Homo sapiens: one gene and its partner. The protein of the gene in region 2 interacts with the protein of the main gene of each other region in a pairwise test. Each region holds a gene or a part of one and is shown on either strand. Other genes may lie near its edges.

Region 1 (7,715 bases), on a different chromosome or scaffold from region 2:
AGCTATATCTGAAGGCTGAATCTGAAGTCAAGGGATTGATTTTTTTGGTTTTTGTTTTTAATAAACATTCCAACTCATATCAGATGAATGCCTCCTTCAAAGGAGTCATTCTGGGAAGTTCTACACTTATTCTAATTATGTCCCTGTTTTCAAATTATGATGTCTGGTGTTGCTTTCAGGGTTTGTGAGATAGTCTTTTGAATGCTCTCAGTGTTGACTCTTGAAAGTAGATTTGATTTTAAAAAACAATCAAGGGTTCTGGGCCAAATCTGGTGAACTAGGGGGGCGGTCAAACTGTGTAATGCCAAGAGGGGTGACTCTAATGTATCCAGGCTGATTTTTCTTGAGTGAATTTGTAGTCACCAGAAGGCACTTTCTGAAGACAAACTCAGACATGAAGTAAACATGTTATAAGCATGACATCAAGCTTGAGTTTGGGGAGGAGAGTTGGAAGATGGTGACTGCGCTGAAGGAAACCCCACTCATTTGGGTATGCAAGTTTTCTAGGATCTCCTCTACCCAGAATATTTCTTCAGGTCCAGATCTATCCTATTTCACAGGACCACAGTTCCCAGACTTACAAGGATCCTACTGCCTTAGTCAACTTTTAACCCCCAACCTGAGTACTTCCCTCCCCCCCGGGCAAAGACAGGGTCTTGCTCTTTTGTACAGTGGTGGGATTACAGCTCATTGCAGCTTTGAACTCCTGGGCTCGAGTAATCCTCCCGCCTCAGCTTCCCAAAGTGCTGGGATTAGAAGCATGAGCCGCCGCGCCCGGCCCTGGACCTGAGTACTTGATATGTGTGCAATCAATACCTGATGGGAAATTAAGTATGGGGAAGAACGTCTAAGGTGTCTGGGTTTAGTCTACATGATTCAAAAGGCAGAAGAGGTAGAAGGATTTGGAGACACAAATTCTGCTCTATATGAGGAAACATTGTCAGCCACTGGAGCTGTCCAGCAATGGAATTAGTTTGCTCTGTAAATAGTGAGCTTTCGGCCCTGGGAGGAGTTTAAAGCAAAGGCTGCTTGTATGGGAACCTGCAGAGGTGTCTCCTGTAATAGGTGGGGAGCTATGCAATGACCTTCAAGGGCTATCTCCCACCTACACAGTATCTGACATTTGGTAGGCCTTGGAAAAACCTGGTAGAATGGAACAAATAAGGAATATGGTGCATCTTGTGAATCAAGTAGAGAGGAAAGAGGCCTGGGGCTCAATCAGGAGCAAGAAGTGAGGCAGAAGTGAGATGAAAATAGCCAGGGAGCCAAGAGGTAGAGTCTTCCTTGGGTTTTTAGTACCATAGGAGAGAAATTGCTTTGGGTACCTAGAGCCTCACGTGGTTAGGAAAGGATAATACCTTTGAAGGGGATAGGAGTTGGGGGAGAAGATAGACTACTGCTCACCCTTCTTAAACTCCTCCAGAACCGTGTCCAGTCGGGTGTCATTGAAAACACAATGCAGGGGCCGGTTGTAGAAGCGGGTGACAGTGAGGAGCGGGGTGCAGTCGTCGGGGTCCACGAAGGCCAAGTCCTTGACAAATAAAATGTCCACAATGTTGTGCCGCTGGTCACCCTCGTACACTGGGATGCGAGTGTAGCCGCTGCGCAGGATCTCGGAGACAGTGGCGAAGTCGAGCACCGCGTCTGAGCGCAGCATGAAGCAGTCTCCCAGGGGGGTCAGCACCTCCTCCACAACTTTGGTGCGCAGCTCCAGGGCACCCTGTATGATGTTGAGCTCCTCCTTCACCAGGTCACTGTAGGGGTCTGCGGCCCGCAACGTCTCCAGCAACTTCTCCCGCGTGTAGAAGGTGCTTATCTCCTGGCGCAGCGCCCAGTCCAGCAGGCGGCCCAGCGGGTAGCACACGGGGAAGGCGGCTGCCATCAGAAGCCGGGTCAGGCACACGCTGTGCGAGGCGATGGCCAGCCCGTGCCGCGAACACACTGAGTAGGGGCAGATTTCGGCGCCCAGGAATACCGCGCCGGTGCACACGAGCGCCGGCAGCCACGGGAAGTGGATCCCCTCTTCGCTGTAGTCTTCCCCGGTGCCCCCGAAGCCCGGCGGCAGCGAGGTGTACAGCCAGCCAGCCAGGGCCGCGTTGGCTCCGGCTTGGCCCAGGAGTAGGGTGCAGAGCAGATGGGTCCCCCTGCCGCGAACGGCCTGCACGCGGCGCGCCTGCTCCTGCTCGGCGGCCGAGCCGCTGTTCCGCAGCACCCGTAACTCCACCGGGTCCAGCGACAGCAGGCTCAGGCGCAGGCCGCTGAACAGGGCCGACAAGGCTAGCAGCAGGAGCGCCCCGAGCGCCCGCAGCCACGCAGGGGGCAGCAGGTCCCCGCCTGGGCCGTACAACCGCGGGCGAACGCGCAGCAGGAAGCCGCCGGCGGCGCCGTGGTGGTGCCACGCGCGCCCATCCCAGGCGCAGAGTGAAAAGAGCTTCCCGCCACCGCCCGCGCCGCCCCGCTCCGCTTCGCCCTTGCGCAGCTCCCGCACTCGCACCTGGACCAGGGCCGAGCCTGCCACGCCCCCGGGACGCAAGGGCCCCAGGACTTCCACGTCCGATGCCCAGTCGCTCTGCTCCCTGCAGCGCTGCGGTCCCGGGGGGCGAGTGGGGACCGCGCTGGGGGCCACGCCGCCACCGCCCGGGGGCTCCTCGATGAACACGAGCCGCGGAGCCCAGTCGCCGGTGCCATTCTCCCCCGAGTTGAGGGTCGGTGAGGGCACCGGTGCGGCGGTGGCCGGCGGTCCTGGCTGGAAATAGACACGCAGGAGGAAGCTGGTGCCTTCGGCGGCGCGCAGGGTGCCCCCCTCCAGGGACACGCGGCCTCCAGCAGTGTCCTCGGGCCGCAGGCCCAGCAGCCAGGCGGCGGCGGCCGGGGGCCGAGGAGACAGGGAAAAGAAGAGCAGGAGCACAGCGCCTCGGCTGCAGCAGTCCCGGAGCCTGACACCCACCGCTGCTGCCGCCGCCGCGGCCGCCGCCATCCTGCACCCAGCGCAGCTGCACGTGATACTGCAGGAAGCCGAGCGAGAGCTGGAGGGAGGAGGAGCCGGAGCTGGGAACCCAGCCGCAGGCAGGTCACCACGTGTACGCCCACTGCGCGCGTGGGCTGGTGGCGGTGGGCATTCAGACTCCACCTGGGCAGGAGGTCCCCGCTGGAGGCTGGAGGTGGCCAGGCATCACCGCACTGTGCGTAGCGGGTACACACTTCGGTATATCTGAGATGCAGCCTGAAAAGTCTGGGTTTGCAGCATGGCCTCCTACTCCAAAAGTAAGGTGCTCCTCTGCGAACTCCTACCCGGCAGTAATTCCCTGCCGGCTCCACTGCTTCCCCATTGGCCCGGGAAATTTCCCAGCTTTTCGCTTCTCCTGCCACTTGCATTCCCCCTTCTGGTCAAAAGAATATTCTGGAGTCAAGTCTTGAATATGTGAAAACTTTTAGCCTCAACTCCAGCCGACCTTTCATTATTGTAAACATTTCTGGATTATTTAAGTTCAATTCTTAGTTAAGATCCGAATGTCCATCAATAAGAAACTGTTGAAATAAGTGAAACCACTGTGCAATGGAATACTATGCGGCAATAAAAAATAATGCGGTGGATCTGTTGTATATGTGATACGGAAAAAAATCTCCAAAGTAATTGTAGAAACAAAGTAAGGTGCAGAACAGCAAGTATAATATGCTACCATTTGTGTTAAAAGTATTTATGTATAAATTTGTACACACACACACACTTATATGAGATTTATTTATTTATTTATTTATTTTGAGATGGAGTCTTGCTCTGTCGCCCAGGGTGGAGTGCAGTGGCACAATTTTGGCTCACTGCAACCTCCACCTCCCGGGTTCAAGCGATTCTCCTACCTCAGCCTCCTGAGTAGCTGGGATTACAGGCGTGCGCCACCGCGCCCAGCTAATTTTTATATTTTTAGTAGAGATGGGGTCTCACCATGTTGGCCAAGCTGGTCTCGAATCCCTGACTTCAAATGATCCATCTGCCTCGGCCTCCCAGGGTGCTGGGATTACAGGCGTGAGCCACCGCGACCCGCCGTTTACATCTTTTAATTAATTTATTTATTTTGAGACGGAGTTTCGCTCTTGTCACCCAGGCTGACGTGCAATGGCGCGATCTCGGCTGACTGCAACCTCCGCTTTCCAGGTTCAAGCGATTCTCCTACCTCAGCCTCCTGAGTAGCTGGGATTACAGGCGCCCGCCATCACGCCCGGCTAATTTTTTTTTTTTTTTTTTTTGGTAGAGACGGGGTTTCACCACGTTGGCCAGGCTGGTCTCGAACTCCTGACCTCAGGTGATCCGCCTGCCTCGGCCTCGCAAAGTGCTGGGATTACAGGCATGAGCCACCGTGCCTGGCGGGTTACATCTTAATTATAGTACAATATCAAAAGCAGGAAGTTGATATTGGTGTAATGTGTGTATATAGTTCTCTATCATTTTATCACATGTATGGATGTATGTGACCATCACTGCACTCAAAATACAGATCTATTATCACCAAGATCTGGGAGGGAGACTTTCTTATTAAATTCCTTATATTGTTTGAATTTACTCGACTATATTATTTTTATGCATTTATTTTTAAACTTTATATAGTAAAATTCACTTTTTGGTGTACTGTTCTATGAATGTTGACAAATGCATATACATGTAAACATCACAATAAAAAGTAATTCCATCACCACCACCCCCCAAATTCTCTTACCGTCCTATTGTATGTAGTCAACCCCTCCCTTCGTCTTATCCTCTGGGAACTACTGATCTGTTCTCCCCTATAGTTTTCTTTTCCGGATTATCATATAAATGGAGAATACAGTCTGTAGCCTTTTGGGTTCTCCCTTCCTTTACTAAGTTAGCATAATGCATTTACGATTCATCTATGTTGTTGTGATTTTCAGTAGTTCATCCTTTTGTATGGCTGAGTAGCATTCCATTATATGGATGTGTCACTGTTTGTTTATCCATTCAATAAAGGATATTTAAGTTATTTCCAGTTTTTAGCAATTATTAATAAAGTGGCTATGAACATTTGTGTGATGGTTTTTGTGAGAACATAAATTTTTATTTCTCTTGGGTAAATTTATCATAAGTCTGTATTACATTTTAAAATATAGTAATCCTAACTACTTGGTAGGCTGAAGTGGGAGGATCTCTTGAGGCCAGGAGTTAGAGACCAGCCGGAACAATGTAGGGAGGCCCTGTCTCTAAAAAATTAAAAATTAAAAAAAATTAGCCAGGCATGGCGACACATGCCTGTAGTTTCATCTACTTGGGAGGCTGCAGCAAGAGGATCACTTGAGCCCAGGAATTCGAAGCTGCAGTGAGCTATAATCGCATCACTGCACTCCAGCCTGGGCAACAGCATGAAACCTTGTCTCTAAAAATAATTAATAAATTAAAAAGGAAGAGTTATTTTACATACCACCCTTGGCACCTGGGTTTAGTGTAAAATCATCCCTATGTGTGAAATCTCATTTTCCGTGGCATTTGTGACATGCCATTGTCTCAGAATACACTAGATCCTGTCCACTATAAGCTGCTTTTTGCATGGGCTACTTAAGAGACAGAAGGGAGGTTTAATCTTATGAGGGAACATTGAGGCATTTATTCGAAGTATAAGGGAAGGAGAGAACTGGGGTCAACCATATGATTGTTTTTCTTCCTTTCTTTCTTTCTTTTTTTTTTTTTATTGAGACGGAGTCATGCTCTGTCACCCAGGCCGGAGTGCAGTGACGCGATCTTGGCTCACTGCAACCTCCACCTCCTGGGTTCAAGCAATCCTCCTGTCTCAGCCTCCCAAGTAGCTGGGATTACAAGAGTGTGCCACCACACCTGGCAAATTTTTGTGTTTTTAGTAGAGATGGGGTTTCACCATGTTGGCCAGGCTGGTCTCAAACTCCTGACTTCAGGTGATCCACCTGCCTCGGCCTCCCAAAGTGCTGGGATTACAGGCGTGAGCCACCCGCCCAGCTGATTGTTTTTCTTAAGTGCAAAAAAGCGCTTACTTCTCTCCTGACACTTAGACTTCTTTCCCTTCCCAACCTAAACTCCTCAGCACAAAGATACCCGCTATCCTAAGGGCTTTCCCAGCTCTTTTAGACCACAGAACATTATCATCATTACAATACCACGTAACATCTTTAACAAGCTTTAAAGTTATGAAGGAATTTCTTATTTATTATTCCATATACACAAGAGCCCTGGGAAGTAGGTATAATTATACCCATTTTACAGATCAGGTTAAATGACTGGTAAAACTTCTTTGGACCCTAGCTTGATGCTTCCTTTATCTGGTAGAGCTGACGGAAATAAAATGTTTAAAAAATATTAGAGCAGGAATTAAAAAACTGAAATTTCTGGTTATAAAGTATTACATGCTTATTAACAAAAATTTTAATGCAGAAGAACATAAATAAAAATACACCATGACCCACCAACTAGAGATAAACACTGTTAACATTTTTTATACTACTTTTTACATTTTCTACATAGATAAGTAATGGAGAAATACATGCACACACACACACACACACGTGCTCTCCATATAGTTACATATTTTATAATTAAATATGTATTATACATAATTCTAGTCAGCTCCTGCTACTTAACACATCAAGGGCTTTTTCCCCAATGTAATAAAAATCATTCATAAATGTCATTTAAATAAATCAAATATATATGTATTACATATGTATTGAGAAAGAGAGAGAACTGTAAGAATGAGCCTATTCCCAATTGCACCAGCTCTATTATTAACAAATGTTAGGCTTGGAAAATCAATCTACTTTTCTGGGCTCATTTCCTCATTCGTGAAATGACAGTTTTAAGCTCCCTACCCTTTCATGAGTCAGTGAGTAAGGGCTAATGTACACTGTGTGAAGATAATCTAGAGAGACTGAGTACTTTTCCTTTTACTGAATAGGAGGTTCTGGAAAAGTACTGGGTTTCCAGAGCTCTGCTGTAACTGAAAGGATTCCTGGGGACAGGTTCAGGCAGTGTGATTCTCCTAAGGAAGAGCTGCCAAAAATAGCTCCCCAGAATCTGAATGTTTACTGTCTTCTTAGCTTACAAGATGGGCACTTCCTCGCTTCTCAGAGAGATGGAGGAAATAATACTTACTTTTAATATCATGACTATACTATTTCAGAATGTACATGTTAAAATGCTTTTGTTTATTTCATTTCTTGTTCATCCATTCCATAAATATTTGTTAATCATCAAAGTGCCAGGCCTTGTGCTAGATATTGGGCATATCTGACACCATCTTTGTCATCTTGGAGCTTAGATTCTCCTGAGGAAGACAGACATAAACCGGAAATTACCTACCTGCCTAATTAATTAATTATTGCCATGAAGGAGCTGTTCAAAGTGCCCTGAGGGTGCATGGGACCCATCATCTAGGGAAGAGGGTCTGGGAACTCTATCCACAAAAATTAGATGTTATAAAAATGGAAGAATTTATACATTAGGAAGAACATAAAATTATTAAATTTTGTATCTTCTATTCCTTTTTTGTACTTTAAAACTATGACAGTATATTAGTAATATTCCTAATAATGTAATCTGTTAGCTTTTTTTTTTTTTTTTTGAGGCAGGGTCTTGCTCCATCGCCCAGGCTGCAGTGCAGTGGCGTGATCTCCACTCACTGCAACCTTTGCCTCTGGGTTCAAGCGATTTTTGTGCCTCAGCTTCCTGAGTAGCTGGGATT
Region 2 (7,191 bases):
GCCTTCTGTGGGAAGCCATTTGGATGTCGGGGTGAGAGCATCTCTCTGCTTTCCGGGGGGTAAGGGAATGTGGCAGTGGTGTCATAGTCTAGGACCTTTCCCTCTCAGAGGCAGATATTTTTTTCAGCATTTCACAAGGGTTTCCAGCTTATTCTGAGGACACCAGTTATTGACTGAAGTCAGAAACGAATATCATGATTATTTGGGCTTCAGAGGCAGACAAACCTGGGGTGAATCCTGTTTCTGTCATTTCTTCTCTCTGAGCCTCTGGTTCCTTCTTTTTTTTTTTTTTTTTTTGAGACGGAGTCTTACCCTGTCGCCCAGGCTGGAGTGCAGTGGCATGATCTCAGCTCGGCTCACTGCAATCTCCGCCTCCCAGATTCAAGCAATTCTCTTGCCTCAGCCTTCTAAGTAGCTGGGATTACAGGCGCACGCCACCACGCCTGGCTAATTTTTGTATTTTTAGTGGAAACAAGGTTTCACCATGTTGGTCAGGCTGGTCTCAAACTCGTGACCTCGTGATCTGCCTGCCTCGGCCTCCCAAAGTGCTGAGATACAGGCGTGAGCCACTGCAACTGGCCTTTTTTTTTTCTTTTTTCTGAGACAGAGTCTCGATCTGTTGCCCAGGGTGGAGTGCAGTGTTGTGATCTCAGTTCACCACAACCTCCGCCTCCCAGGTTCAAGTGATTTTCCTGCCTCAGCCTCCCAAGTAGCTGGGACTACAGGCATGTGCCACCATGCCCGGCTAATTTTTGTATTTTTAGTAGAGACAGCTTTTCGCTATGTTGGCCAGGCTGGTCTGAAACTCCTGACCTCATGATCTGCCTGCCTTGGCCTCCCAAAGTGTGGGGATTACAGGCGTGAGCCACCGCGCCTGGCCTTTCTCAAGTGTTTTCATACGTTATTATCGATACGTGAAAGAGCCCATGAGGTAGCTGATTATTATTTCCATTTAATAGTTGATAATACTTCCCTTTTTTAATGGGGGTAATAGTACCTTCTTAATAGGGTCATTTTGAATCATAAACTTGATAATAGATTTTATTTTATTATTTATTTATTTTGAGATGGAGTTTTGCTCTTGTTGCCTAGGCTAGAGTGAAGTGGCGCGATCTTGGCTTACTGCAACCTCCGCCTTCTGGGTTCAAGTGATTCTCCTGCCTTAGCCTCCTGAGTACCTGGGCTTATAGATGCCTACCACCACTCTCGGCTAATTTTTGTATTTTTAGTAGAGATAGGGTTTCACCATGTTGGCCAGGCTGGTCTCAAACTCCTGACCTCAGGTGATCCACCCGCCTCGACCTCCCAAAGTGTTGGGATTACAGGCATGAGCCGCTGTGCCGGGCCTTGATAACATTTTAAAACGTTTCAATCAGGACTTGAAAAAGAGTAGATGCTTAATAAAAGGTAACTATGGCTGGGTGCAGTGGTTCATGCCTATAATCCCAACACTTTGGGAGGCCAAAGTGTGAAGGTTGCTTGAGCCCAGGAGTTCAAGACCAGTCTAGGCAACATGGCAAGACCTCCATCTCTACAAAAATAAAAAAATAATTAGCTGGGCATGGTGGCATGGGCCCATGGTCCCACCCACCTACTTGGGAGGCTGAGGTGGGAGGATTGCTTGAGCCTAGGAGGTTGAGGCTGCAGTGAGCCATGTTTGCACTACTGCATTCCCTCTGGGGTGACAAAGTGAGACCCTGTCTTAAAAAAAAAAAAAAAGGCCAGGCGCGGTGGCTCACGCCTGTAATCCCAGCACTTCTGGAGGCCGAGGCGGGCAGATCATGAGGTCAGGAGATCGAGACCATCCTGGCTAACACAGTGAAACCCCACCTCTACTAAAAATACAAAAAATTAGCTGGGCGTGGCGGTGGGCGCCTGTAGTCACAGCTACTCAGGAGGCTGAGGCAGGAGAATGGTGTAAACCCAGGAGGTGGAGCTTGCAGTGAGCTGAGATCCCGCCACTGCACTCCAGCCTGGGTGACAGAGTGAGACTCTGTCTCAAAAAAAAAAAAAGGGGGGGGGCGGTAAAGGTAACTACTATTGGAGCCACTATTCTTATCCTTATGTTGTTAATGTTGTTATTACATTATTTTATTTCAGGGCCAGAAGGAGAGCTAGGTGGAGGGAAGGGTCATTCACTTGGTCAGACAATCTACTAGATGAAAACAAACAAGCAAACAATCTGCTAGACTGCCCCAAATAGATCCATTTAAGCAGGGGAGAATCTGAAAACAGGCAATTACAATTCCATGTTAAGTACTATGGTAGAGTATTGCACAAGGTGTTTTGCAACTTTATCGGAAGAATCAATAACTCACAGACGCAGCAAAAGTTTTGCAGAGGTGGTAGCTCTTTCTTTCAAATCAGTCTATGTTTCCAGGAAGTAGAAAATACTGCTTGCTGGAGGCAGACAGAATGCAAGTGAGCCCAGTCTGTGCTCCTCACCTAAGGGCCTTGCTACTGATCTGCAGCCCCTCCTGCTCCTCAAGGCCTCTCTCAACTCCCACACAGCCCTGCTAGCCAGCCTTGCCCTAGAATACCCCCTCCTGGGCCACCTGGTGGTGAACATCCTGGACTCTGTGCTGTGGCTTGATGCGGCTGAGTCATAAGACCTTTCTTTTTACTGCTAAGCGCTAATGGAAGCCTTCTGGTCAGAAGCAATGCCCCAAGTCTACCTTGTGGGGAAGGTCTAATGACGACAGATCACTGCTTCTCCCCGCAGGGCTGGATGAGCATGGATGTGGTGGCGAGGTGGGGGAGAAGCACCCACGGGAGCATCTTCATTTCTTCCTATATAGGCGCCAGTTCTGGGCAGGCAAGACTTCCCAGGGGTGGACAGAAAGAACAGACCCTCCCCAACCCGCAATTCCCAGGGGGAGACATCTCCCTCCCAAGCCAGCCTCCAATGCCGCACTTTGCCATCTGGTCGTGGCCCAAACCAGCCTCCTAGCTCGCTAGTGACCACATTTTCCAAACCAAAACTCAGGACGCATGATCTGGCAAAGAATTTCTGGCTAGCTTCCAAATGCAAGAGGCAAAAACCTTTCCACCTGAGAATCTCTACGATAATCTGCGTCGTTAAAGGTGACATTAAGTCGGAAAGCTTGAAATTCAGGGTCTCTTCTTTCTCACTTTCTCAACTCAAGCGTTTTCTTTTTCTTTCTTTTTTTTTTTTGAGACGGAGTCTCACTCTGTCGCCCAGGTTGGAGTGCAGTGGCACGATCTCGGCTCACTGCAAACTCCGCCTCCCGGGTTCAAGTGAGTCTCCTGCCTCAACCTCCCGAGTAGCTGGGATTACGGCCCTCCTTCCGGGCGGGCGCCACCATGCCCAGCTAATTTTTGTATTTTTAGCAGACACAGGGTTTCACTATGTTGGCCAGGCTGGTCTCGAACTCCTGACCTTGTGATCTGCCCTCCTCGGCCTCCCAAAGTACTGGGATTACAGGTATGAGCCACCGCGCCTGGCCCTTCTCAAGCGTTTTCATACGTTGTTATCGATACGTGAAAGAGCCCATGAGGTAGCTGATTATTATTTCCATTTAATAGTTGATAATACTTGGAATCACTTGCCCAAGATCCTACATCCTGAAAGTCTGAATTTTGGCTTGTCAGGGACAGTTCTTAGGGTGGGTGTGTGTCTTGTGGGCAGAGCTGGGGGTGGCGTATTAATATCTTCGACGAAGATGCACACGCCATTCATTTGGGGCCTCAGGAAGGGCAGCCGAGAACTGAGCTGGCCAGGTTCCCACTTCTGAGTTGGAAATCCCCAAGCCCAGGACGTGGCGGCCACCCCGTCCCATCAGGATCTGACCCGAGGCCTTAGGGCCAAGTAGCGAGAAAGAACCCTTCGACCTTGCAGGTCACACCTCGGCTGCAGGCCCTCGACCCAGCCCAGGTGCGGATGGGCGGGGCGCAGCGTGGGCGAGCGACTCCCCAGGCCACGTTCTGCCTTCCCTCCCCGATCACATGGACTCGCCTTCCGTAGCCGGGAGTGCGGAGCGGAACGAACCACGAGGAGGAGGAGCGGGGGAGGCGCCCAGGGCAGTGGGTCAGCGCCCCGCGGGGCAGGTGGGCGGGCCCAACTGCCCGCGAGCCGGCCAGCCAGCCAGTCAGCGAACGCGGAGGGCGGGCCGGTGGCCCTGCGCGCCGCGCCCCGCAGCGCCCCCTGAGGGGCGGCGGCGGGAGCTGGTTCCGGCTGCGCGCGCAGCGGTGGTGGTGGCGGCGCGATCGGCCGGGCTGTAACCGTCGTCTGTCCGGGAGCGGCTGGAGCGGCAGCGGCGGCCGGGCACGGCGCGAGGTGACGCCACAGGGCAGCGGCGGCAGCGGAGGCAGCGGCGGCAGCAGGAGACGCAGCGGCGGCCGCAGCAGCAGCAGCAAGACGGACTCGTGGAGACGCGCCGCCGCCGCCGCCGCCGGGCCGGGCCGGGTGTCGCGCGCCGAGGCTGGGGGGGAGTCGTCGCCGCCGCCGCCACCGCTACCGCCGCCGCCGCCGCCGCCGAGGTGACTGAGGAGAGAGGCGCCTCCTCGCTCCCGCCACCGCCGGACTTCAATGCCCAGTCCCCAGCTCGCCAGCGTGAGTGCGCCCCTCCCGGGCGGCCCCCGCGCCGGCGCCGGGGGCCTCGGGGAAGGGGAGGGCGGGAGGCGCCGCAGCCATTAGTGCAGGCCGGAGACACGTCCCCGGAAGGAGGGCCGGGCCGGGCCGGGGCGGGGGAGCGAGGGTGGGTGAGCGAGGGGCGGGCTCGTGTGTGTGGAAGGGAGAGAGCTGTGCGAGCGTGGGGGAGAGTGAGTTGGTGAAGGGAGGGCGTGTGAGTGGGGGACAGGGCTGAGTGTCCGTGCGAGGAGGTGGGGGGAGTGGGAGCGCGTCGGGAGGCAGTGTCGATGTTGGGGGAATGTGGGTGAGGGCAGGGGAGGGTATGGGTGTGTGGGGAGCGTGTGGGCATGAGGGGTGGTGGTAGAATGAGTGAGTAAATGGGGGAGGAGAGAGTTGAGAGTGTGGTAAAGAGCGGGTGAGTGTGGGGGGAGAACATGGTGTGTGTCGGTGAGAAGGTGCGTGGCAGAGGCAGGAGTGTGGTAGGGTGTGCCGGCGTGTGTCCAGTGTGTGAGCAGGCATCCTAGAGGCCCTTCCCCTTGGTCTTTGTGTGTGGCGATAGTGAACCCTGGTGTGTTGGGTTGGGGAGTTCTTTCCGGGAGCATCTTGTCCGTGGGTCTTCAGGTTCAAGTATGAGGAAAGGGGGTATAAGTCTCCTCCAGCGGCACTATGATCTTCTGGCTCTGGGATTTTAATTTTTTTCCCCCAGAAAGGATGTGATGTGTTTTTTTGTTGTTGTTCTATACATTTTTTTCTCCCACGTTTCATGACTTCAAAGTAAATTTTCAAATTTGTCAATGATGCCATCCTATCCTAGTCTGGGGCCCCTGAGAGCTAACGAAAAGAAGTTTGTCTGTTGCCCAAAATCCTACACTCTGGCCTGTAGAGTGTTCAGGAGCATAAACTTTTGTAAAGTACTGCTAGTTTTTCAGGTGAAGAGTATTTTATTGTTAGGTAAATTGAACTGTAGTCTGGTTTATTATTTCCTGGAATTTGTCAAGAAATTAGCAGTGACTAGCAATTCTAGTGTCACTGTAGGCATTCAGCAAATGTTTGTCTGTCCGGAGTCGCCAAACTACATTACACTGCTGAGTTGGAATATGGTACTTGCTGTCATGCTCTGTAAGAGAGAGTAGTTTCAGAGGGAAGTGAGTGAAGTTATGCCTTGCTGAGTGTGCAAAAGGAGATTAAGGATACAGAATGACACATTATCAGGGCTTCAGAATCACTTGCCAGCACACCATTGTATTGGTGAAGATGGTGAGAAGTTGTTTGCTGGTATTCTGATCTTGGCATTTTTAAGTTTCATAATGAATGGACTAATTATTATCATGGACTTTTCCCATTCTTGTGTTGTAAAAGTAGGGATTCTTGAAGAGTAGTACCTTGATAGGGATTTTACACATTGATATAATCTTAAAAATGATGTTATCTTAAAAATAATGTCTCCTAGAAGTTGGTAGTCTTTCACTTGATCTTAGCCAAAAGGCCGAGAAGCGATAGAAGTTGGTAGTCTTTCAGTATAAGCAAAGAGTAGTATGGTCCTTTTGTTTTTTTTTTGTTTGTTTTTGAGATGGAGTCTCGCTCTGTTTGTTGCCCAGGCTTCCCGGGTTCAAATGATCTTCCCGCCTCAGCCTCCCAAGTAGCTGAGAATACAAGTGTGTGCCACCACACCCGGCTAATTTTCATATTTTTAGTAGAGATGGGGTTTCACCTTGTTGGCCAGGCTGGTCTCGAACTCCTGACCTCCAGTGATCCACCTGCCTTGGCCTCCCAAAGTGCTGGGATTAACAGGCGTGAGGGTGGTCCTTTTGATAGTGAACATAATAGAATTACAGGCAAAATCACTGATGTGTAATTAAAAGTTAGAAATTATATTTTTCGGCTGGGCAAGCTGGCTCATACCTGTAATCCTAGCACTTTGGGAGGCTGAGGCAGGAGGATCGCTTGAGCCCAGGAGTTCGAGACCAGCCTGGGTAACATGGTGACTCCATTTCTACAGAAAATACAAAAGTTAGGCGTGGTAGTGCGTGCCTGTAGTTCCAGCTATCCCGGAGGCTGAGGTGAGAGGATCTTGTGAGTCCAGGAAGTCAAGGCTGCAGTGAGCCAGTGAGACCCTCTCTCAAAAAAAATAAGAAGAAAGAAATAGTAAATAGTATTGTTACTATTCAGTGAGGGAAGGAATTGATTAGTATTAATTTCCTCCTGTGCTACAGGTGCTTTTTATATTCATTTAATTCTCACAACTACAAGAAAGGTGGTATCTTCATTTGCATCCATTTAGCTTATTTTGAATCACTTCTATTTGCCAGGCACTAGGGATACAGCGATGAGCTCCCATGGATTTACAGTGGTGAGAAGAAGAGATACAGAAACTCAAAAGGTTAAGTAACTTGTCCCAGGTCATACAGATAATAATTAGTGCTGGATTAAAAATCCAGGTCTTTGACTCTAAAGCCCTTGATTTTTCCAATACGTCATACTACTCTCTCAGTAGCTCCTCTTATATTGAGGTTTCTCATCAACGTGATGGCCTAGCAGCTAGTACTTAGGAGAGCTGTTGAAACTAATGGAGAAGGCTGGAGGCAAGGGGATCATTTAGG

Evidence for each region. Proteins that work in one complex are often made in the same cells at the same time.
Region 1: the proteins of PTP4A2 (region 2) and CNNM1 interact in binary tests that used the Homo sapiens proteins (3 or more experiments, as listed by UniProt).

The regions. Positions count from the first base shown.
Region 1 is NC_000010.11:99,324,650-99,332,364, reverse strand, and holds the start of CNNM1 (metal transporter CNNM1), read right to left. Parts: upstream 3,010-7,715; 5' UTR 2,978-3,009; coding exon 1,405-2,977; intron 1-1,404. UniProt on the Homo sapiens protein: Probable metal transporter.
Region 2 is NC_000001.11:31,935,369-31,942,559, reverse strand, and holds the start of PTP4A2 (protein tyrosine phosphatase type IVA 2), read left to right. Parts: upstream 1-4,191; 5' UTR 4,192-4,573; intron 4,574-4,741; exon of another isoform or gene 4,742-4,805; intron 4,806-7,191.